Linked DNA regions of Homo sapiens. The protein of the gene in region 7 purifies or fractionates together with the protein of the main gene of each other region. This does not show direct contact. Each region holds a gene or a part of one and is shown on either strand. Other genes may lie near its edges.

Region 1 (2,732 bases), on a different chromosome or scaffold from region 7:
TCACCTGCAGCCTTCTATCAGAACTTCCCTCCTGGGTGTCCAGCCGTATCCTTCCAGCATTCCTTGGCTCTGACACGTGCTTGGCTTTAAGCTCTTTGTTGGCTTCCAGGGAAGGACATGGCAGCTGTGCAGAGGACCCTGATGGCTTTAGGCAGCGTTGCAGTCACCAAGGATGATGGCTGCTATCGGGGAGAGCCATCCTGGTTTCACAGGTAAAAGCCTCTTCCTTGCCCCCTGGACCACAAGGCGATTTTAACCAGAGGGAGGGTCTGAAGCCTTGGAACTCTACAGAGGCTTTATGTGCAAAGCCCCAGGACCAAGCACTGCTGTCTCCACAACTGAGTTCCCCAAAGCAATGAAAGACTGATGCTTCTGTACAGGCCAGTAACCTAACCAGAGCAGAAATGGTTGGGCCTTTTCTACCAGATACCTCCCAGCTCCACCCAGGTTCTGTTTCTCCTGAGGCTCAGCAGGACTGGATGGCCTTTCTTGAAGGTGGCTTCATGTCTGAACTTGGCTTTATTATGACTTAAGCCAGCTCTGAGCTTTCTTGCCTGCCTGGCTGCTTCCCTCCCTCCCTCCCTCCCTCCCTCCCTCCCTCCCTTCCTTCCTTCCTTCCTTCCTCCTTCCCTCCCTCCCTCCCTCCTTCCTTCCTTCTTTTTTGTTTGTGTACTTAATAAAGGGTAAATATGTCATGTTTGTTTGGAACAGTCATGGTTAATATCTATGTTGTCCCAGTATATCTATTAATAGAACTCTCTTTCACTCTCAACAGCGTCCTAGTCCGGATGACAAATTATATGGTTATCTCTCAGTAAAGGGTCTTTTTTTAAAATGATTTTTTTTTCAGGGGGTAGGGTAGGCAGGAAGCTTAAACTGGGTAATTTAGTTGTAGAAGAGTGCCCTGTGGCAAATAATTGATTATTCATTTCCAGCATCCCCTTTTCTTCTCCTTGACAGTTATTAAAAAAAAAAAAGTTACCAGCTTATGTCATTTTAAAGAACACTCGCCCTGAAAACTTCTGAGAGGTTGGCCATTTGAAACCCTGGTTTTAGTGTCTGTATTATTAGTGAACTACCGTGTTCCCATGTGGCTACACAACCACAATTATGTACTATCTGGCTCTTTACCAAAGTTTGCAGACCTCTAATCTAGAGTGCGACATTTCCCCTCATTAACTCTTAGGTCCCTTGGCTCTAAAAGGGTATATTCATCTTGGCCCTATACAGGGAAAGGGGGAATGGGATTAATGATGTGCTTTGTAAGAAGAACCAATTTTAATTTTCACAAAGGCTTGACGTAGCTGTGAGAGAAAGGGTAAGAAGAAGCAGGCTTCTTCTTAGAAGTCTGAGATGGCCTAAAGTGGTGGGGGAAGAAGGGAGAGTGGGGAGAAAGAGAAACAAGAAAAGCTGAGAGTGAATTCCCCAGAGAGGTAGCCACTGATTCTGCCCTACTCTTTGCTGGAATTCTGGAAAACACCTGGGCTTCTAAAAGATAGGGAGCTCATGCATCATGGTAGGGCCACAGCTCAGGCTAGGGCCAGAGATAGCTCAGAGTAGCGCCACGGCTCAGGGTAGGTCCACAGTGCAGGGTAGGGCCATAGCTCAGAGTAGGGCCATAGCTCATAACCACAGCTCAGGGTAGGACCTGCTGATCTATTTGGGGACCCCCAGCAGAGCCTGTCTAATTGCATATCTTGAAAAGGATTGGAAAACTGTCATAATGACATTATTCCCTCTCACTTTCCTTGTCCAGGAAAGCCCAGCAGAATCGGAGAGGCTTTTCCGAGGAGCAGCTTCGCCAGGGACAGAACGTAATAGGCCTGCAGATGGGCAGCAACAAGGGAGCCTCCCAGGCGGGCATGACAGGGTACGGGATGCCCAGGCAGATCATGTAGGACGCGGCATCCTGCCCCTGGTAGAGAGGACGAATGTTCCACACCATGGTCTCTACGAAAAAGAAATAGTTAGTCACCTTCTGACCTTCTCCTCTTTCTCAAAGCCTTCTGTCCCTGGTTTTTGCAAGTGCTGCATTTCCGCCGAGAATCCGCGTTGCCTACTGCTGCCACCTCCTGTTCATTTAGAACTATGCAAAGACTCCGCTTCCGTTTTCCTGAGCTCCTCGGGCCCCAGAGTCTCTGTTTGATTATTTATTTATTTATTTATTTATTTGCCAAAAATTCTCCTCTTCAACTTATAGAATGCACCTAATAAAGTAATTAGTCTTGTGTCTTACAGTGTAAAGTTCATTCTTTCTCTTAAGGACTCCACAGTCCGGACTGGTTTCTCTTCCATTCAAAGGCCAGAAAGATGGAATTAAGCTTAAGCTGCAGCTGAGCAATATAGGTTAGCTATGAGGACGCTCTTGCAAGATTATCGCGTTTATCTTGGCAATTGGAATAGAAAGTTTAGGAGTCATTTCGCCCACTCTGAGAGCCTAGAGACATAAGTTCAAGAACAAAGTCTTTGACCACAACAAGTTTTTGAGCATGTACTTTGTGCTTATTGTGCTAGACCTGTAGAGGACACAGCCCGGGAGACAAAGCCCGGTTTCTTGAGAAGCTCTTGTATAGGTGCCCAGGAAGTATCTGTTGAATGGATGGAAGGAAGAATGGATGGGTGGATGGTTTTATTGAATGGATGGGTGGGTAGATGACTGGATGAATGAGCAGTTTTCACTTCTCTAGCATTCATCTTCCTCTTACAGACGAGACCCTAGGTCCGATGCTGAC
Region 2 (3,500 bases), on a different chromosome or scaffold from region 7:
GAGCAGCTGGTGGTAAACATAGTGGCTTCAGTCGGTACACACTTGTAACTGATGATTCTCTCAGCACTTGGAAGATAGCATTCTGCAGTTTTGGTTCCATTTTTCCTGTTAAGAGATTTCTATCAGCTAAATGGTGTTCCATGGTAGGAAATATGTCTTTCTCTGTAACTTCCTTTAAACTCTTCAATTTTGATATTCTTTAGTTTCTCATAATATATCTAGGAGGAATTTTTTTTTTAATGTATCCTGCTTGATGTACATGTGTTTTCTTATTCTGTGAAATTCTTAGCTATTTTCTTTTCATATTCCTCTCCTTCATTTTTTCTGTTCTTTTATTTTTTTGAGACGGAGTTTCACTCTTGTTGCCCAGGCTGGAGTGCAGTGGTGTGATCTTGACTCACTGCAACCTCCGCCTCCTGGGCTCAAGTGATTCTCCTGCCTCAGCCTTCCAAGTAGCTGGGATTACAGGCGTGCTCCACCATGCCCAGCTAATTTTGTATTTTTAGTAGAGACAGGATTTCGCCATGTTGGCCAGTCTGACTTTGAACTCCTGACCTCGAGTGATCCACCCCCTTCAGCCTCCCAAAGTGCTGGGATTGCAGGCGTGAGCCACCATGCCCGGCCATTTTTTTTTTTTTATTCCTTTAGAGTTCCAATTAGATGCATGTTATAGACTGAATGTTTTTCTTCCCAAAAGTTACATGTTGAAATCATAACTCCCAATATGATGACATTAGGAGGTGGGGTCTTTGGGTGGTTATTAGGTCACAAGGGTGCAGCCCTCATGAATGGAATTTATTCAAGAGACACCAGAGAGCTCTTTCCTCTTTGTGCCATGGGAGCACTGAAGGAGAAGTCAGTAGCGTGTAATGTGGAGAGGCCCTCACCAGAACCCAACCATGATGGTACCCTCATCTCAAACTTCCAGCCTCCAGAACTGTGAGAAATAAATATCTGTTGTTAACAAGTCACCCAGTCTGTAGTACTTTGTTACAGCAACTAAGACAAGGCATCGTTAGGAGTTCTCATTCTTTCCTTTAGAACTCTAATATATCTGAGCTATGCTCTATCTCCTTGTATCTGTGCCGTGTACTGGGTAATATCTTCTGCTCTGTCTTTGAGTTCATTAAACCTCCTTTCATCTGAATCTCTGTTTATCCATTGAGGGGCCCTCCAGCCCCCAGCAATCCTGATTTTTATTATTAAAAGATCTATTTGGTTATTTTAGAAAATTGTCTACTTATTTTTGATGCTTACTGTTACTTGCTTATTTTTGTGACTCTGTCTTTATGTTTTATTCATAGTTATTGTAAATTCCCTATTTGCTGATTTCAATGTCTGAAGTCTTGATGGGTGGCTTTGGTTTATGGTAGATTATTTTCTTGTGTGTTGAATCTTTGGCTAAACAATTATTTGTTCTAAATTAGTGGAAAACCTGTTAGCCTCTTTTGAGAATGCTTTGCTCTGAAAAGGATTTGCATTTTATTTTACCACAGGCCTGAGGCTGCATTAAGTCTCCTTACAGGAGCCCTCGCTCCCAAGAATGTTGTGTTTAGTCCTCCCGCTTGCCGTCCCCTCCAGCAGGCCTCCTCTCCCAGCCCCACCAGCGTGTCCTCATAGTCCACCACCTTCATTTTTTTCATGTCGGTATTCACAGTTCAGCTCAGGGCTTTGGGGTTGCTTTACTTTGTCCCTTGGAGATTTTTTGTATGTTCTGTGGGCCCAGCAATGCAGCACACACACACACACACACACACACACACACACACACACACACACACACTCACACACATACACCATTTAGATCTTTAGTAGGAGGTCCCTTCAGAGTGTCCAGCCAACCGTTATCCTGGAAATAGAGGTTTCAAAGCATTTTTAAAATGAAAAAGACAAAGAAATGGAGGGAGGAAGGAAAGAGGAAAAGTAATACCATTATAATACTGAGCATTTGGATGATGGGAATAAAGAAGGAAAAAACTTTTAGATGATGGTCCTACCGCCCCAACACAGTACCTGTAAGATCAGAGCCAATTAATGAAGAGAGGGGCAAACATAAAAGAGGGAAAAGCTAAGACATTTCTATCTCATCATCACCTAATTCCCATTAGGCAAGCATTCTTTTGGAAAATAATTGAATACCTGAGCCTTTAAAGACTTAAAACTTATTTTTACTTGCTAATAACTCCCTGAAAAGTTACGTGGAAGAGTACTTAAAAAATCTTTCATTAAAATTTAGATAAATGCAGCTTATATTTTCTACATGTGATTTATACATCTCTGATATGTAGTTTTGAATGTTATTGTTCCTCTTCTTAATATATCACAGGACAAGGAGTAGATGAACCTCTTTCAGAAACTGGATTTAAACAAGCAGCAGCTGCTGGTATATTTCTGAATAATGTGAAGTTTACTCATGCTTTCTCCAGTGATCTCATGAGGACAAAGCAGGTACATTTATTTATTTATTTATTTTGAGACAGAGCGTCACTCTATGCCCAGGCTGGAGTGCAGTGGTGCAGTCTCTGTTCACTGCAACCTCCATCTCCCGGGTTCAAGTGATTCTGATGCCTCAGCCTCCCAATAGCTGGGATTACAGGTGTGTGCCACCACACCTAGCTAATTTTTGTATTTTTAGTAGAGATGGGGTTTTGCCATGTTGCTGGTCTCAAACCCCTAACCTCAGGTGATCCACTTGCCTCAGCCTCCCAAAGTGCTGGGATTACAGGCGTGAGCCACCACGCCCAGCAACAGGTGAGTTTAGAGTCAAGGTCTAGGCTGATGTGCCAAAAGTCTCAACAATTGTATAATCTTGAAAAATCTGCTACCAGAGTCTGTAGGGAATTAAATCCCAAACAGACATGACCTTCCTCAACAGAACTTATTTATTTTAATTTTATTTTGTACTTTTTAAAAAAAATAATTTTTAAATTAGAGTAGCCTAGAAAAAAAAGTCCAGCAAGAATATAAATAAGCTATTATGAGAGAGAGCAGGGAAAATGACAGGAGAAATTAATCCACTGTGACATCAGGTATTAGGATTACCAGATAGAGTAAGAAACCACTATGTCACTGTAAAGAAATAAAAGACTTGTTAGAAATATCTTCAGGGAACAGATTACTATAAAAATGAAAAACCAGTTGGGCATGGTGGCTCATGCCTGTGATCCCTGCACTTTGGGAGGCCGAGGCAGGTGGATCACTTGAGGTCAGGAGTTCAAGACCAGCCTGGCCAACATGGTGAAACCCTATCTCCACTACAAATACAAAAATTAGCCAGGTGTGGTGGCGTGCACCTTAATCCCAGCTACTTGGGAGGCTGAGGCAGGAGAATCGCTTGAACACAGGAGGCAGAGGTTGCAGTGAGCCAAGATCGTGCCGTTGCATGGTTGGGCTACAGAGCAAGACTCTTGTCTCGAAAATAAAAAAAAAGTAAAATTAAAAACGAACCCAGTCTACTTCTAAAAACTCCATGGAAGGAGAGTTTTGTGACCAACTGTGAG
Region 3 (3,500 bases), on a different chromosome or scaffold from region 7:
GCTCAGGAGGTCGAGGCTAGTGAGCCATGATCATACCACTGCACACCAGCCTGGGTGACAGAGTGAAACACTGTCTCAAAAATAAATAAATAAATAAAATACATGTGTGTGTGTTTGTGTGTGTGTGTGTGTGTGTGTGTGTGTGTGTGCACAGAGAGTAGCAACTATTTGCTTGGCTTTTACATTGTATTAAGTATTATAAGTAATGTAGAGATGATTTAAAGTATGTATGAGGATGTGTGTGGGTTATATGCAAAATACTACACCATTTTATATCAGGGACTTGAGCATCCATGGATTTTGGTATCCATAGAGGTCCTGGATCCAGTCCCCCAAGGAGGCCAAGGGAAAAATGAACTCTGATTCCTTGAATTGCAGTCCTCCTACTAGAATGAGCCTAATTTTGGGAGCTTCACAGTTTTGTTGGATTGTCATCGTTGTATTTTTTGTTTCCTCCCTTCTAAGTTTATCTGTATTTTTTTCTGAATCTCCTGTTTAACTTTATCTTCCAACCTGTTTACTGAATTTTTCTTCTCTGTTATCAGATTTTTAATTTCTGAGAGCTCTTTTGCTCTCTGAATGTTCCATTTTTGTAGCATTCTGGTTTTCAGGATGCAATATCTTCTCTTATCTCCCCAAGAATATAATGTATAAGATTTTCCTGCTTTGGATATTGTCTCTACAAGAATCCCAGAATCTATTTCTCATGGCCCTTCATACTCAGGCCTGTCCCTTCTGCTCTATGGCCATACCCACCAAGGAAAGTTTTTTAGCCCTCTGTTACTACTTCTAGAGACATCACAAGTTGCTACTTTGTACCTCTTAAACACTGTACCTTCTCTCTCTCTAGGAAGAAGTTGCCTATGAAGAAAGGGCCTGTGAAGGCGGCAAATTTGCCACAGTAGAAGTGACAGATAAGCCTGTGGATGAGGCTCTACGGGAAGCAATGCCCAAGGTCGCAAAGTATGCGGGGGGCACCAATGACAAGGGTGAGTACCCCTGCAGGATGTGGCTCTGGTCTCGGGGACCAGCTTTGCAAGGTCTCACTTCATCAGTGGTAAATGCAAGTGAGGGGCTACAAGGCACCTGTAGTGACCTGTTTCAATGACCTGTGAACCTCCTGCACTGTGTGAACAAGCAGTTTATTGCAGGAATGTGGGGAAACCACTCTGATATCAGCCCAGTCTGTCCCTCACTTGAAGGCATCCCTGCTCAATATCTCCAAGTTCCTGCTTCACTCCCAGGTGTGGGACCATAGGCTCTATTTTTTTTTTAACCCTGCAGTGCTTATTATGTCTTTGGATTGGTTGACTAGGTGGCGTGTGCCCACAGTAAGCTGAGCTACAGCACAACGCAAGGCCAGCATCAGGCTGGAGATCCCCAGAGTCAGCCCCTGGTAGCTCAGATTCTGCTGGGTCCTGAGGCTCAGTGAGCAGTGAGGTTCCAGACCCTGTCTGGCAAATGAAGGGTCTGAGAATTCTTGGGCCATCCTGCTCTTAAAAACTTGGCAGTTCATGCTGGCCACCTCTCTACTTTTAAAATGATAAGCCTGAAGTCTCATGAAAGGTGTACCTGTTAGATGTAAACCATATTTAAAAATGAGTTTGACTCGTGAGAAGCCCTCTAATTTGGGTAGCATTTTGGAATCACTGCAAAACAAAAATGGGTCAGAAAGCAAGAGGAAAAAAAAGAGATGTGTTTAATTTTTAGGATATTTCTCAAGCTGATAATTTAGAGAGCTAAAAACGTGTGTTAGCCTTAGTAACATTTACTAGGAGCTGCTCTGTCTATTGAGTAACCATTCTTTTATTCCTTTACTTACTTAAAAAACTTGCTTTAAAAAAAAAATTTACTAGGACTAAAGTAGTCAGGCTTTGGAAGATACGTTAACCTGTAGGAGGTCAGGAAGAAATCTTTTCCTTCTTAACACTGTCTTAACATTTTTTTAAATGAAAATATGTATGAGAATTATAAAACTCACTAAAGAAAACCTTTAAAATAACAAAACAGTATTCCCTAATTCCCCCATTCAATACAATCAATGTTGTCTTTTGAATGTATTTTTTAGGGCTTTTTAATGTAATCTTAGTGTTCCTATAATTACATATCCTGCTTCTGTTAGTTATTATTTCATAATTATTTTCCACTAGTACCAGAGTCTTCTTAAGCATAATTCCTAGCTACATTATATTGTATCATGTGTCTGTAATTTACACAGACATATTCCTGTTTTGAACAGAATTTATAATTCTGCTGTAATGAATATCTTACTACCTATAGCCTTTTCCATATTTTAGATTGATGTTTTAAATAGGCAGTAATTAAATACTGGCTAGGCATGGTGGCTCACACCTGTAATCCCAGCACTTTGGGAGGCCAAGATGGGCAAATCACTTGAGGTAGGAGTTTAAGACGAGCCTGGCCAACATGGCAAAACCCCATCTCTACTAAAAATACAAAAATAAGCTGGGTGTGGTGGCGCACACCTGTAATCCCATCTACTCAGAAGGCTGAGGCACAAGAATCGCTTGAACCCAGGAACCCAGGAGGCAGAGTTTACAGTAAGCCGAGATCATGCCACTGCACTCCAGCCTGGGCAACAGAGCAAGACTGTCGGAAGAAAGAAAGAAAGAGAGAGAGAGAGAGAGAGAGAAAGAGAGAGAGAGAGAGAGAGAAAGAGACTGATAATCTACAGTCTTGATATATATTGCCAAATCATTTTTTAGAGTTGTACCACTATACTCCTACCAACAGCGTATACAAATAACAGGTGTTCATGTATTTCTGTATTTTTAACACTTGAAATGTTCATTGTTAATTTCAAGAACAAAAACATACCACTTTGAAAGACGAATGGAACTAATGTGTCTTCCACAGCCCTGAGCAAGCTCTGTCTCTGATCCCTGCCTCACTCTGTGCTTTTGTGTTTTCAGGAATTGGGATGGGGATGACAGTCCCTATTTCCTTTGCTGTGTTCCCCAATGAAGATGGCTCTCTGCAGAAGAAATTAAAAGTCTGGTTCCGGATTCCAAACCAATTTCAAAGCGACCCACCAGCTCCCAGTGACAAAAGCGTTAAGATTGAGGAACGGGAAGGCATCACTGTCTATTCCATGTAAGGAGACAATCCTTCAGGCATCCATGGGTGGCGCTTGATTCCCGTACCACTCCTTGCATCACCTCTGGCAAGCATTCGCGTCAAATTTTTATGGTTGCTGAATTAATTTAAGTAGGAAATGCTGAATCCTAACAGTTTCTCATTTTAATTTCTTCAGGCTGCAGCACACACACATTTGCATTTTATCAGAATAAATGCCTTGGCCAGTTGCCAAATTGATGGGACGAGCTTAAGCTTTGCTTAAGCTTACAGTGAATGTCTACATTAGCCATAGCAGGGTTCTAGGAGACTCAGCAAATATCTTAAGTCAAGCCATGGTCTGGATTCGTGGACACATGGGAAGCATAAAGGGCTGAGGAATACCTGATTTCTACCCCACACTC
Region 4 (3,500 bases), on a different chromosome or scaffold from region 7:
TCTTTCAGCTTCCCAAGTGGCTGGGATTATAGGCATGCACCACCATGTCTGGCAAATTTTTGTATTTTTAGTAGAGACGGGGTTTCACCATGTTGGCCAGGCTGGTCTTGAACTCCTGACCTCAGGTGATTTTTAAATGCCCACCTACTTTCCACCTCTCCTGTCAATTTGTCAGTTTGATTCTGATAAGTATTTTTTTTTTCTTTTTTTTTTTGAGAGAGAGAGTCTTGCTCTGTCACCCAGGCTGGAGTGCAATGGCGTGATCTCGGCTCACTGCAACCTCCACCTCCCAGGTTTGAGCAATTCTCCTGCCTCAGCCTCCTGGGTAGCTGGGACTACAGGCACGCACAACCACCCCCGGCTAATTTTTTTTTCTATTTTTAGTAGAGACAAGGTTTCACTACTTTGGCCAGGCTGGTCTCGAACCCCTGACCTCAGGTGATCCGCCCACCTCGGCCTCCCAAAGTGCTGGGATTACAGGCATGAGCCACCGTGTCCGGCCTGATTCTGAGAAGTCTTTATTTAGCATTTATATTTTTAAAAAGCAACATATTAGTTACCTCCCATGAGAAACCTAGAGGTTGATTTGCAGACTGCTAGAAAATAGGGGTTATAAAAGGTACAGTATCATTTTTCCAGTTCCCTGTGGTAGAATTCATTTTGATAAGGTGTCAGCCAGCTTGTGGGGTGGATTATAAGCAGTTTGGGGGTGCTGTTTGTATAGTTAATCTTAGAGCACCTTCCGTATCTGCCCGGGGAAAGATATTGTCATTACTGCCATGGACCCTGCTGGAAAAGAGGTAACCAAATCCATTATTTGTGATGCAGATCCATCTGTTTGACATTGATGTTCCTGGAAAAATTACATTTCAAGAATCTAAAACATTGAGTCCGGGTGATAGTTTCTCCACATTTGATACTCGTATGTACCAGATAAGTTTGCCTCTTTAGCAATCTCAGTAGAAGACAATCAGGTATTTATTTCTTTTTTGTCTCTCTCCGATTTCTTCACATAACCTAACTGAAAGACCATAAGTGAGAAAGGCAGAGAATCATCACAGATCTGGAAAGTTCGGGCTTATTTGAGAACTAAGGATTTGACACGATTTTGCCCTTTGATTTGATTGTAGCTTCCTGTTACGGCTTCCAGAGTATACCTATTAGGCTACAGTTGAGTACCTCCCATCTAGATAATAAGCATTCAATTAGAATGAATTTCTCATCTTTACTCCGCTGATGTAAATGATGTCTTTATGAGATGAAGTCCAAGTAGGAATGAGCTTGTAAATTATCTCTGTCCTCAGGTCCTGTGTTAATTTATCCCTGTCAGTGTTTTGTGATCATTATGTCATGGAGGATTTCCCCTGCCACACCATGCTGTAGGGAGTTAACTTTTCATTTGTGCATTTTCTGTTTGGAAACAGCTTACTGCAGAGTGGGTCTGGGCATCTGCTACGACATGCGGTTTGCAGAGCTTGCACAAATCTACGCACAGAGAGGTGAGGCAGTGTAATAGCTGTGTTATGTGGGTGCTTGGAGGCTTGGTTCTAGGCTGGTCTATGTGGGATCCTTAGTCAAGAAAAGCTGGGAGAGGGCTCTTTAATTTCTCCATCTTCAGCCCTTTCACCCCCATGAGGCTTCCCAGACTTTTGCTGTGTATGGATGACAGGGTTTTTGGGGGGTTGTAATTAAACACATCATGTAGCTAAGGTAGGAGCTGTGCTCATAAAGGTCTGGTCTACCCTTGAGTCCTTGTTACTGTGTTTGGAGAGTCACTTGAAGCCCAGTAGAAATGAAGTGGATTTCACCACTCAGTACCCCTAGACATTGGGTACAAGTAGAAATGTGGTCTGTGATATTTTGGTCCAGACGAGGAGAAATGTGCCAGTATCTGGGAAGAGCGAGTTCAAAAGATGTGGGTTCTAGTTCCAACTCTTCCCTTTAATTGGCACAGTACTTTGCTAAAATGATTTCACCTCTAGAGCAGTGTGGTTCTCAGTTTAGTCACAGGAATGATATGAGGATTAAGAAGAGAGAACCTATAAAGCCCCTCGTGTGGTACTCAACAAATACCAGCATCCTTACTAGACTGCTTGAAGCTACTTCCAAATAGACTGTCACTTAACCAAGTGAAGTGGGTGGAAATGGTTTGACTGCCTGCTCAGAAGGTGGAGGTGCATGGGCTCTGGGGTCAGTAGTCTCTGTTGAGCCATATATCAATAAGCCTTAGGGCAACTCCTCGGCCCCTAATTTCAGTTGAAAAGAATTACAAAACGTGGTCATTGGCCATGTGGAGCTGACATATGGAGCTGAGATAAATTTGTTTTTTTTTGTTTGTTTGTTTGTTTGTTTTTTTGAGACAGAGTTTAGCTCTTGTCGCCCAGGCTGGAGTGCAATGGTGCAATCTCGACTCACTGCAACCTCCACCTCCCAGGTTCAAGTGATTCTCCTGTCTCAGCCTCCTGAGTAGCTGGGATTACAGGTGCCCACCACCAGGCCCAGCTAATTTTTGTATTTTTAGTAGTTATGGGGTTTCACCGTGTTGGCCAGACTGGTCTTGAACTCCTGACTTCAGGTGATCTACCCGCCTCGGCCTCCCAAAGTGCTGGGATTACAGGCATGAGCCACCGCACCCAGCCAGAGCTGAGAGAAATTTGAATGACAGTTCTCTACCTTATTTTTGTTTGTTTGTTTTGAGGCAGGGTCTCACTGTCACCCAGGCTAGAGTGCAGGCGTGATCATGGCTCACTGAAGCCTTGGTCTCCTGGACTCAAGTGATCCTCCCACCTCAGCCTCCCAAGTAGCTGGGACTCTAGGCATGTGCCACCACACCTGGCTAATTTTTAAATTTTTTGTAGAGATGGGGTCTCTCTATGTCGCCCAGGCTTTCCGTCCTTTTTTTAAGTGAAGTTGATACCGGTGGGCTAGGGGAGGCCCCCAAACACCAGTCTGACCTTGACCCCAGCCAGTGTCCATGCTATTGACACTATTGCAAGAAGGAATTCAAGGATGAGTCAGAAAATAGTGGAAGTATGGAGATTTATTGCAAAGTGAAAAGTACACACTCAAAAAAGGGAGGGTGTGTGTACTCAAGAGAGTCATGCGCAAGGAGGTTTGGGCCATCTACCTTTATGGGTTTCCTTTTTTTTTTTGAGACAGAGTCTCAATCTGTTGCCCAGGCTGGAGTGCAGTGGTGCGATCTTGGCTCACTGCAACTTCTGCTTCACAGATTCAAGCAATTCTCCTGCCTCAGCCTCCCCAGTAGCTGGGATTATAGGCGCTCGCCACCACGCCCAGCTAATTTTTTGTATTTTTAATAGAGGTAGGGTTTCATCATGTTGGCCAGGCTGGTCTCGAACTCCTGACCTCAGGTGATCTGCCCACCTCGGCCTCCCAAAGTGCTGGGATTACAGGCGTGAGCCAGCGCACCCACCGCCTTTATGAGTTTCTTTACCAAGGGGTGAAATATTCATGACGCTTCCTAGAAAAAGGTGGAGATT
Region 5 (3,500 bases), on a different chromosome or scaffold from region 7:
GGCCCATTTGCTGCTTTTTAAAGGCTACAAGAAGTCTCTCTACAATACCTTCCTTCCTTCATGCTGAGAGGCCCAGAGCCCACCACTGCCTTCCAAACCAGGTGCTGGGAAAACGAGGCAAGTCAAAGAAAGCTGGAGCCAAGGAAGACTCAACACTCTCTTCCCACTAGCCAGGCACAGTGGCTCGCGCCTATAATCCCAGCACTTTGGGAGCTCAGGAGTTCAAGACCAGCTTGGGTGACATGGCAAGATCCCCATCTCCACAAAAAATAAAAAATTAGTTGGGCATGGTGCCACATGCCTCTAGTCCCAGCTACTAGGGAGGCTGGGGTGGGAGGACTGCTTGAGCCCAGGAGGTCAAGGCTGCAGTGAGCTATAATTACACCACTGCACTCCAGCCTGGCTGACAGAATGAGGCCCTATCTCAAAAAAAAAAAAAAAAAAAAAGGAAAAAACAATTTTTTTTTTTTTATAAAAAAGGTAAGCATTTACAAGATGGCCCTCTTGGACACACACCAGGTTTCACAATAAGACCAGATAGGACAGAGTCCACATGAGACAATATGCTCATACTCGACTCAAGTGAGGGCCCCTGGGTAAGACACTTGACGTCATCTGGCTTTCTCACCTGTGAAATAAAGTACTTGAGAACTGATGAAAGAATCAAAAATTTATCAATGAGATTCTGCCCTTAGCTAATTTTTATAAGTACTGTGCAGGCCGGGTGCAGTGGCTCACGCCTGTAATCCCAGCACTTTGGGAGGCCGAGGCAGGCAGATCATGAGGTCAGGAGATCGAGACCATCCCGGCTAATAGTGAAACCCTGTCTCTACTAAAAATACAAAAAAAAATTAGCCAGGCATGGTAGCGGGCGCCTGTAGTTCCAGCTACTCAGGAGGCTGAGGCAGGAGAATGGCGTGAACCTGGGAGGCGGAGCTTGCAGTGAGCCAAGATCGCGCCACTGCACTCCAGCCTGGGTGACAGAGTGAGACTCCGTCTCAAAAAAAAAAAAAAAAAAAAAAAAGGCTAGGCGCAGTGGCTCACGCCTGTAATCCCAGCACTTTGGGAGGCAGAGGCGGGCGGATCATGAGGTCAGGAGATTGAGACCATCCTGGCTAACACGTGAAACCCGTCTCTACTAAAAACACACAAAAAATTAGCCAGACGTGGTGGCAGGCGCCTGTAGTCCCAGCAACTCGGGAGGCTGAGGCAGGAGAATGGCATGAACCCAGGAAGCAGAGCTTGCAGTGAGCCGAGATCGCGCCACTGCACCCCAGCCTGGGTGACAGAGCGAGACCCTGTCTCAAAAAAAAAAAAAAAAAAAAAATGACTGCAAACACACGACCACTGAATTCAATCAAGCTCACCCATCCCTCAGTTACTAAGACCCCAAACCCAGGAGTCACCCTTATTCTCTATCCCTCCCATGCGCCAACCCATCTGCCTCCAAATATATCCCAATTTTGAATACATCTCATTATCTCCACCCCCCAGATCCCTAGTCCCAGACTCCTCTGCCATTCCTGGGATGACTCCAACAGTCCCCCACTGGTCTCCCTGCCTCCTCCTTTTGACCCTCTATGGTCCATCATGCACGCAGCAGCCCAGATGATCAGATCACATCACTCCCTGGCTTAAAATCTCCCAGTTTTCACTACACTTGGATTTCCTTACCGAAGCCTGCCTGACCCTAGCCCCAGCCTCTTGTTCAGACCTTTCGCTCCTCAGGACACTGTAGCAACACTGGCCTTAGCTCTTATCCTCAACACACTCAGCTCATACCTAGGTGGGTGCTCTGCACATGCTCCTTCTATTTGAAGTCTCCTCCAAAAATGGTAAACAGCTGCGTTCGTATCATTTAAGTCCCAGTTCAGATGTCACCTCTTCTACGAGGTCTTCCCCAAACACCCCAGTTAAAAATGCCATGTTCCCACCCCTATTCTCTCTACCTTATCTTCCCCACAACACTCAGTAATACAATATTCTTATTTTTCTACGTAATTTCCCCAGGACAACAATTTAAGCCCCACTATTCTTGTTCACTACTGCACCCCCAGTGTCTAGAACAATGCTAGGCAGTGCTAGACATTAAGCTTTTTCTTTCTTTTTCTTGAGACAGAGTTTCACTCTTGTTGCCCAGGCTGGAGTGTAATGGCGTGATCTCGGTTCACTGCAACCTCCACCTCCTGGGTTCAAGTGATTCTCCTGCCTCAGCCTCCCGAGTGGCTGGGATTACAGGCATGTGCCACCACACCCGGCTTATTTTGTGTTTTTATTAGCTATTGGGTTTCACCATGTTGGCCAGGCTGGTCTTGAATTTCTGATCTCAGGTGATGCATCTGCCTTGGCCTCCCAATGTGCTGGAATTACAGGCGTGAGCCACCGAGCCCAGCCAAAGCTTTCAAAGAACACTGTGAAGCAGTTGGTTTGAAAGGTAATGCTGTGCTCCCTTAATCCTCAGGATGGTGTGTCTGTTCCCTCTGTCCACATCTAAGATGGAAGCTTATTTACCAATTCATTCACTCAATTCTAATAACAACTGATATCTGCGAAGGTTATCACAGTGACCATACAACCAGAATCATCTGTTTCACAATTCAAACCAAGATTTTATTTTAACATGGCACAGAGTTTCTGCCAAATATTTTTGTAGTTAACTGCCATCACAAATTTATATGCAAGAGGTTACATGACTTCCCCCAAGGTCACATGAAACCTCAGCACCCCAGTTATCTCAAGGCAAAACCAAACACCTAATAAACATACTTGCAACTGCTCAGCCCCTCTTGTGTACTACTCAGTCATATGCACAAAAATAAATGCTAAAAACCAGAGAATAAATGTGGTTTTTCAAAAATCTCACCTCCTTAGCTGGTTGCAGTGGCTCACGCTTGTAATCTCAGCACTTTGGGAAGCCAAGCCAGGATTGCTTGAGCCCAGGAATTTGAGACTAGCCTGGGCAACATAGCGAGACCCCCATTTCTTTAAAAAAACAAAACAAAATAAAACAAAACCCACGTTCTATTTTCTTATTTCTAATCTTACTACCTGGTAGCAGGTACTGTCAAACGAGAGTACACATTCAACTTGGCACTGTTCTGAGGTTATGGTGCCCTGATCCACAGGCTGAGCTCGATGCCAAAGGGAAGCAGCATAGTGCCAGTTGCTAAGCCCTCAGGCTTCGGAATCAGACATGTCCAGATTCAAACCATACCTACTAACAACTACTGATAAAGCCCCAGGCAATTTTTTTTTTTTTTTTTTGAGACGGAGTCTCACTCTGTCACCCAGGCTGTAGTGCAGTGGCGCGATCTCGGCTTACTGCAACTTCCGCCTCCTGGGTTCAAGGGATTCTTCTGCCTCAGCCTCCCGAGTAGCTGGGACTACAGGCGCCTGCCACCACACCCAGCTAATTTTTGTGTTTTTAGTAGAGATGGGGTTTCACCATATTGGCCAGGCTGGTCTCGAACTCCTGACCTTGTGATCCACCTGCCTTGGCC
Region 6 (3,500 bases), on a different chromosome or scaffold from region 7:
AGGAAGAGGTGGCTGCTGCTCACAGTTGGGGGTTTGGAAGCACTGGAGATGGCCCTAGGGGGCCTTTTGTGGGGCCAGGGCAGTCCCACTCCTTTTATATGTAAGAATCCTAGGAGGGCAGTGGTCGAGACTGGCAGCAGACAGGGATTAGGGTAGGGATGTGACAAGGCGAGGAAGGGAGGTGGCAGAGCTGCTCACCTTGGAGATAGCCAGAGGGACAGGGAACCTGGGGACGGGGGATGGTGCCAGCTGTGGCCCTGGCTCCTGGGGCCTCCAGGAAGGGAAGAAGGAACCAGGGCAGAGCCCACAGCCAGGAGCTCACCTTCTCCAGGTTGGTGTTGTCCAGCCAGAGGGTCTCCAGGTATCTGCCAAAGGACTGGAAGGCATTGTCCGGGATGCTTTTCAGGGGGTTGTGGGACAGCTTCAGCTCCTCCACCACCCGTAGCTTGCTCAGGGCAGCTGAGGGGTAGCTGGACAGCTGGTTCCTGTCCACGTGGAATTTGGCGAGGTTCTCCACGTCGTCCAGGGCCCCGGGCTGCAGGGAGCTCAACGCGTTTTCCGACAGGTAGAGCCAGCGCAGGTCCTTGGCTCCCTGGAAGGCGCCTGCGCGCAGCTCACGGATCTTGTTGTTGTTGAGCTGCAAGATGAAGAGGTTGACCAGCGGGGAGAGCAACCCCCGGGGCAGCTCAGTGACCTTGTTGTGGTCCAGGTAGAGGTAGGTCAGCTCGGTCAGGTCGTCGAAGGCACCTGCGCGCAGCACGCGGATGTCGTTATGGGACAGGTACAAGTAGATAAGTTGCTTGAGGCCGCGGAAGGCACCGGCGGCCACCTCGCGGATCTGGCAGTGCTGCAGGTGCAATGACACGAGGTTCGGCATGGCCCGGAACGAATTGGCAGCCAGCACCGGGAAGTTGTTGCGCTGTAGGTTGAGCAGCTTGGTCTTCTCTGACACCTTGGGGATCTTCTGCAGCCCCACCTTGTCGCAGATGACGTGCTGCAGGTCGCTGTGGCAGTGGCAGTTCTGGGGGCAGGCGGCCAGCGCCGGCAGCAGACCAGCCAGGAGGCCGAGGCTGAGCAAGAGCATTGGGCGGACCATGGCTGGGACGCCTGGGGCCGGGGCTGGGGGCAGCAGCGGCGGCGGGGCGCGGGCAGCGGCGAGTCCTAGGCGCTCGGGTCTGCCGCCCTCTTTATACGGTGGCCCTGACCGCAGCCGGCAGCCGAGCCAGCTCCTACGTGGAGCATCGAGGCCACTGGGCTTAACTCGCTCGCGCCCAGAGATGCGCCCCCGCCCTCCACGGGGAAGGGGGCGGGGCCGTTCCCCCAGCCGGCTACCGTGCATGAGGGGGTGGGACCGTGGCCCCCGAGCCCCGAGCCCTGAGCCCCGGCTGTAGCCCCCCGCTCTCCTATGGTGCTCCTCTGCCTACCGCCTTTCCCGGGGCTTTTCTGGGAAGGGGGAATAGTTATGTCTGGAGCCCCGAGTTTACATCGGAGAGAGGGAGGCGTTCCCTCAACTTATTTGTTTGCTCAGGTTTGAGCCTCCACGCCGCGCCATCCACACACGCTCGGCCGGGTGCCCTGGATGCGAGGCGGGAGGAAGCGGGGCCGGACAGCTGGATGCGTCTCCCTGCGGTGGGCCAGCTGCCTGCGCTTTAAAGGGGCGCTTGTGCGGCGCCTGCCGAGCGTGAGAGCCGCCCCGGCGTCGGTCTCCCACTTCAGACTCGACGCGCCGAAGCTGGCCCTGGGTAGACCCGAGCTCCTTCCCCACCCTCGGGCGCGCCCCCACCCCTCTCTTCCAACCCCGCTTGCGTTTCTGTCGCCGGCGCCCTCATCCCCTTTTTCCACCGCTGAAGGCTAAGCAGAGAAGTGGGAAGTGGGGGAGAGTGGCCCACAGGAATGGCAAACACACCTGGAAACCACAGGCCACAAGCACAGTCGCACCATCCCCCCTCCTTCATCGCCCCGAAATATCTCCATCCCTCATCCCCAACCCTAGTGGTCAGGACCCGCCCCTGAGGGGTCTCAGGGTGGCGGCTGAGTGGCGCCGAGGTGTACTTGGCAGATGCCACATTCGGGCGGTGGCCCCAGGACTGTGAGGAGGGGTGCGGGAGGGGGTGGGGCAGGTCGAGGGACCAGCCCTGGACGGCTCTGGCTGCCAGACCCTAAGTTCTGTGGGCAGTCCCGCCCCAGCCCGCCAGATTTCTGTGTGCCCACTTGCCAGCCACGATGTCCGGATTCCTGTGGAAAGGGGAGGGTGAGCAGGCAGGGTCACAGCTCTGGCCTCAGGGTGAGCTCCAAGCTGCCTGGCACAGGATATTGTCTGTGATGAGGGGTGGAAGGAGAAACCAGAACCCACATTGAACCAAACCCCAGCCGTGCCAGAGCCAGAGCAGCTGATATGGGGGAAGCTTGGTGCAGGGAGGAGGATGGATGAGATCTGGTATCCGTTGATTAAAGGGGACCTAGGATACGGGGTAACTAGCCTCTCTTCCCTTACCCAGTACCCTCGTGTTGGGGCCTGGTTTCCAGGGCCTGCCCTTTTCCCAAACCTCTCTGCCCCTTGCCTCTAGGATAGGAGGGTCATACTTGGCCTAGACCATTCCTTGATGGTATTTAGGCTTCTCCAAGGCTGGCTTCTGGTTTTTCTGTTGCTCAGGCTTTCCAACCACTGGAAATGGGGGAGGTGGGGTGGGGGTACCACTGGTTTTTAAAATCACTGCTTAGGTTGTTTTTTTATTTTGATGGAAATAAATTCACGGGAAACTCTCCAGAGCTTGGGGGACGCCTGCCCCAAGGCCAGGCACTTGTTCAGGGTTTGCAGAATGCGGGGGTGGGGTTGTGTCTGTGCCACTCCTAGCTGGGCCAAGGCAGGCTGGCTTTCTCATCAAGTTTATGGGGCCTTCAGCTTGGAAGGGAGGAGCCGGGGATGTGGCCTGAAATCAGGAAGGTGGGGTTAAGGCAGCCAGGGGATGGGGGGAGAAGTGTGGGGTGTTGGTAATACCGGAGCCACAGGCACAGACAGGTGGCTGCTCCAGGGAAACGGGGCACTGAGAGAGCTCCAGCTGGAAGAGAATGGTGTCCCTGCTCTCAATTTTCTTTCAGATCTGGGGCCCTGCAGAGATCTAGTCTGCTCACTCCCAGCACCTCTGCCTCCTGACCCCAGGCCCCTACCAATGATGTCTCTGTTTCCACCATTCGGCTGCCCTCCACTTTCCCTTTTCTTTTATGAATTCCTTCCCATTTCCTCAGATAGCTCACCTGATCCCTCTGCACGTGCTGAGCCCTCTTCAAACACCCTTTCTGGACCCTCTAGGTTGCTTATGGAACCACAGAGAACAGTCCCGTGACATTCGCGCACTTCCCTGAGGACACTGTGGAGCAGAAGGCAGAAAGCGTGGGCAGAATTATGCCTCACACGGAGGTGAGCCCCTGACCAAGACTCCAAAGTCCCACCTCCCGTCACCCAGCTGGGGTGCACCCAGCTGGGACATCGGTTGCTTTCA
Region 7 (3,500 bases):
CAGCCCATCAGAACAGAAATGTACCCCACCCCACACACCTGGGCCAGTTATCTTCTCTCCTGGGAACTTGGAAATGAGACACAGAACTAAGACAGTAAAGGTTAGGACAGTAAAGACAACTAAGCGTTGGGGCTCAAATAATGTTAATTAGAGGCTAGAAAAACCAAAGCCACTTAAGAAATAAATTTTTAGAGGAGCAAGAATTAAAAACATTGCAAAGGGACTGAAGTATGCAAAGTAATATGGAGCAGAAATGTGAGGAAAAACAGACGAAAGACCAGGCAGACCCAGGTGGAAATGTGGATGAAAGGGCTGCCTGAAAGCCTTCAGTCCCAGTGAAGGCAGGCTGAACTGATGTGGATGGGATTTCATGGGATTCTATATTTTTACAAGTGCCTGTTTACTTAAACTAGGATGAGTGGACTTCTGCGTCTTGCAATAAAATGATACCAAAGACCAAAGTATTAAAACACATAAACACCATCACGAGCATTAAAGCATCTGATGCTACACCCATCAAGTCTTTAGGTAGTCGGTCCCTTTTGAACAGTCTCCTGGTGTCCTCCCCAACAAAGAAATCAGAAAAATTTTCTTCCCTAGCTCTTTGCAGTTGGGGCCAAGTTTTGTGACCTAGGCTCTTCCTGTCAGACACACACATAGAGTTCAAATCAGAAACGAGCAAGGTAAGGAAACAGGCTTGGTGGGATATCTGCTTAAGATATTCAGCTCTCCACTGGTTTTCCTGGTGAGAGCAGCGGCAGAGCTTCTGGGTTTCAGCAGTGTGGGTTACAAGATAAAATTCCAGAGTAGAAATGGCATCAGTGCCAGTGGTGTTAGCAGTTATCTCAGACTCTACTTTCTGGCAGCCTCACAAACTGAAGCATCTGGTGCTCAGCTTGGACTGGCAGCAGTGAGTGCTTCCCATTAGGCCATTTCTCAGCATGAATTTGGGATGTTCTGTCTTAATTCCAAGCCTGTTTGTTCCGCCTCCCAATAATTCTATGAGCCACTCAGTCTCCTTTAAAGAAAGTTGTGTTGGCCGGGCGTGGTGGCTCAAGCCTGTAATCCCAGCACTTTGGGAGGCTGAGGCAGATGGATCACCTGAGGTCAGGAGTTTTCAGACCAGCCTGGCCAATATGGTGAATCCCCATCTCTACTAAAAATACAAAAATTAGCCTGGCGTGGTGGCGCACGCCCATAATCTCAGCTACTAAGGAGGCGGAGACAGGAGAATTGCTTGAGCCCGGGCAGTGGAGGTTGCAGTGAGCTGAGATCGTGCCACTGCATTCCAGCCTGGGTGATAGAGCATGACTCCATTTCAAAAAAGAAAGAAAGTTGTTTCTTAAACGTGCCAGGGTAGCTTCTGTTATTTGTAATTTATAAAATCCTGACCAAGCCAGCATTTTAGGCCACAAAACTGTTCCTAAGACCAGTCCATTACCTCTGTGAGCGCAGGAACTTGATGCACCCTTGGTGTTTCTAGAACACCTTGACACCAGGACTGTAAGGGTTCTACCATATTTTTATGTGAGGGGGCCGATACAGTTAGCCATAAACTGATAAACTAAGAAATTATTCTCTGTCTAGGTGCCATCCTTGGTAGGAAGCTTTATTAGAAGCCAAAATAAAGAAGACTATGCTGGCCTAAAAGAAGAATTTCGTAAAGAATTTACCAAGCTAGAGGAGGTAATTATTTCTCCTAGCTATCATCAGAGTAAACGATAACTATATCTACCCTCCTTTTCCTCCTATTCTTTTCTTTATATTCCCACTTTCCAAGTCACTTTAAGGTAATTAGGAAAATTCCCCTAAACATTTTTGTTTACAGCAGACTGCTGTTATAAAGCAGAAAGCTGTCCTGCTTAAGATATAAATCAAAACACCTAAACAGACTTTGTCATGGGCTTGCTTTTAAAATATTCTGCTAATGTTAAAATAACAAGGAAAAAGGAAATTGTACCCACGTTTCCACAAGTTTTTATGTATCCAGTTTTCCATGCTTGTTTGCAGTCCTTGTCCATATATTTAAAAAAAATTAATATAGCTCTAATCAGAGCATAGATATCATTCTGTGTCCTGCTTTTTTTCCTGTGTCCACTTAGTATTACATACTAAATATTTCCCACCAGAAAAAGTTTGCAATGAACAGTACAGACACTTGAGGGAAGCCCAGATGTATTTTACCTTCTTTTGGGGACAGCTGACATTTGGGCCTTGGAGTCTGTCTCTTGGCCTTGAAATATTTCATTCATGCTAAGCCTGAAGTTTTTACTGACAGAAGACATAGTTCCTGTCTTTCATGGGAATGCATTTTAACATTTTATCAGTAAGCATGATGTTTGCTGTAGGTTTTTCAGAAACCTTTTTTTCATTATAAAGTTCTCTTCTATTACTAGTTTGCTAATTTTTAAAAAAGTCATAAATGTTGAATTTTATTGAATGGTTTTTCTGCATCTGTTACATCTATTGAAATGTTCATAGAATTTTTTCCTCTTAATCTGGTGAATATGGTGCTATTGACAAATTTTTTTTTTTTTAATGTTTAACCATCCTAGCATTCCTAAGATAAAACCTACTTGTTCTCTATGGATTTTTATATGTACTGTAGAATTAGCTAATGAATGATTTTTGTATGTGTGTTCATAAATGAGATTGGCCTATAAATTTTCTACTCTTATAGTATCATTATTGGCTTTTGGTTTCAAGGATATTCTGACCTCATAAAATGAGTTGGGTAACTAACCTGTTTTTCTAATCTCTGAAACCATTTGGTAGGGACTAGCGGTTTCTTTAAAACATTTGAGCCTGGTGTCTTTAACAGGGGTAGATTTTTCATTACTAGTTTGATTTCTTTAATGGTAATTGGTTTTTTGGTTTTATATTTCTTCTTGAATCAGTGTTGGTACTTTTATATTTTTCTGCTGAACAGTGTGGGAGCTGGAAAGTAAGATGCAGTCCATATTCTTCAGATAATTAGTTTAGTAGTAGACAGAACACAGTAGGTAGATATAAGCAATCTAAAATGCATATTATGCATTGAAAAAAAACTATGGAGGTTATTTATAAAGGGCAAATTAGTTTGGTGGTTTAAATAGCCAGATAATATTCTCAATCACCCCCTTTGGCAAACCCTGTAACCAATTCGCCTTCTTAAAATTTCAGAAACATACAATTTGTGTTTTGTTTTCAAATGATTGTCATCTGTTTAGCAGTTAATCCAGTCTATTTCCAGTATATTTTAAGTACAAATGCTTTTGCACTTACAATGGGGTTACATCCAATAAACCCACCGTAAGCTGAAAATATCATAAGTGGAAAATGCATTTAATAAACCCAACCTACAGAGCATCATAGCTTAGCCTAGCCTGCTTTAAATGTGCTCAGAAAACTTCCATTAGCCTGCAATTAGGCAAAATCATCAAACATAAAACCATCAAACATAAAATATTTATAAAGTGTTGAATATCTCATATAATTTATCGAATACCTGCATCCAAAAG

Evidence for each region.
Region 1: the proteins of GSTO1 (region 7) and TAGLN3 fractionate together in Homo sapiens (co-fractionation; one large-scale study listed by BioGRID). This does not show direct contact.
Region 2: the proteins of GSTO1 (region 7) and TIGAR fractionate together in Homo sapiens (co-fractionation; one large-scale study listed by BioGRID). This does not show direct contact.
Region 3: the proteins of GSTO1 (region 7) and HEBP1 fractionate together in Homo sapiens (co-fractionation; one large-scale study listed by BioGRID). This does not show direct contact.
Region 4: the proteins of GSTO1 (region 7) and NIT2 fractionate together in Homo sapiens (co-fractionation; one large-scale study listed by BioGRID). This does not show direct contact.
Region 5: the proteins of GSTO1 (region 7) and ACO2 fractionate together in Homo sapiens (co-fractionation; one large-scale study listed by BioGRID). This does not show direct contact.
Region 6: the proteins of GSTO1 (region 7) and ACSF2 fractionate together in Homo sapiens (co-fractionation; one large-scale study listed by BioGRID). This does not show direct contact.

The regions. Positions count from the first base shown.
Region 1 is NC_000003.12:112,011,654-112,014,385, forward strand, and holds the end of TAGLN3 (transgelin-3), read left to right. Parts: intron 1-109; coding exon 110-212; intron 213-1,756; coding exon 1,757-1,898; 3' UTR 1,899-2,232; downstream 2,233-2,732.
Region 2 is NC_000012.12:4,334,713-4,338,212, forward strand, and holds part of TIGAR (fructose-2,6-bisphosphatase TIGAR), read left to right. Parts: intron 1-2,326; coding exon 2,327-2,448; intron 2,449-3,500.
Region 3 is NC_000012.12:12,986,766-12,990,265, reverse strand, and holds part of HEBP1 (heme-binding protein 1), read left to right. Parts: intron 1-850; coding exon 851-989; intron 990-2,933; coding exon 2,934-3,114; intron 3,115-3,500.
Region 4 is NC_000003.12:100,344,757-100,348,256, forward strand, and holds part of NIT2 (omega-amidase NIT2), read left to right. Parts: intron 1-828; coding exon 829-922; intron 923-1,424; coding exon 1,425-1,499; intron 1,500-3,500. UniProt on the Homo sapiens protein: Has omega-amidase activity. The role of omega-amidase is to remove potentially toxic intermediates by converting 2-oxoglutaramate and 2-oxosuccinamate to biologically useful 2-oxoglutarate and oxaloacetate, respectively.
Region 5 is NC_000022.11:41,472,117-41,475,616, reverse strand, and holds part of ACO2 (aconitate hydratase, mitochondrial precursor), read right to left. Parts: intron 1-3,500. UniProt on the Homo sapiens protein: Catalyzes the isomerization of citrate to isocitrate via cis-aconitate.
Region 6 is NC_000017.11:50,467,718-50,471,217, forward strand, and holds part of ACSF2 (medium-chain acyl-CoA ligase ACSF2, mitochondrial isoform 2 precursor), read left to right. Parts: intron 1-322; coding exon of another isoform or gene 323-1,096; exon of another isoform or gene 1,097-1,163; intron 1,164-3,310; coding exon 3,311-3,418; intron 3,419-3,500. Other genes in the region: CHAD (chondroadherin precursor), read right to left, coding at 323-1,096. UniProt on the Homo sapiens protein: Acyl-CoA synthases catalyze the initial reaction in fatty acid metabolism, by forming a thioester with CoA. Has some preference toward medium-chain substrates. Plays a role in adipocyte differentiation.
Region 7 is NC_000010.11:104,261,392-104,264,891, forward strand, and holds part of GSTO1 (glutathione S-transferase omega-1), read left to right. Parts: intron 1-1,587; coding exon 1,588-1,686; intron 1,687-3,500. UniProt on the Homo sapiens protein: Exhibits glutathione-dependent thiol transferase and dehydroascorbate reductase activities. Has S-(phenacyl)glutathione reductase activity. Also has glutathione S-transferase activity.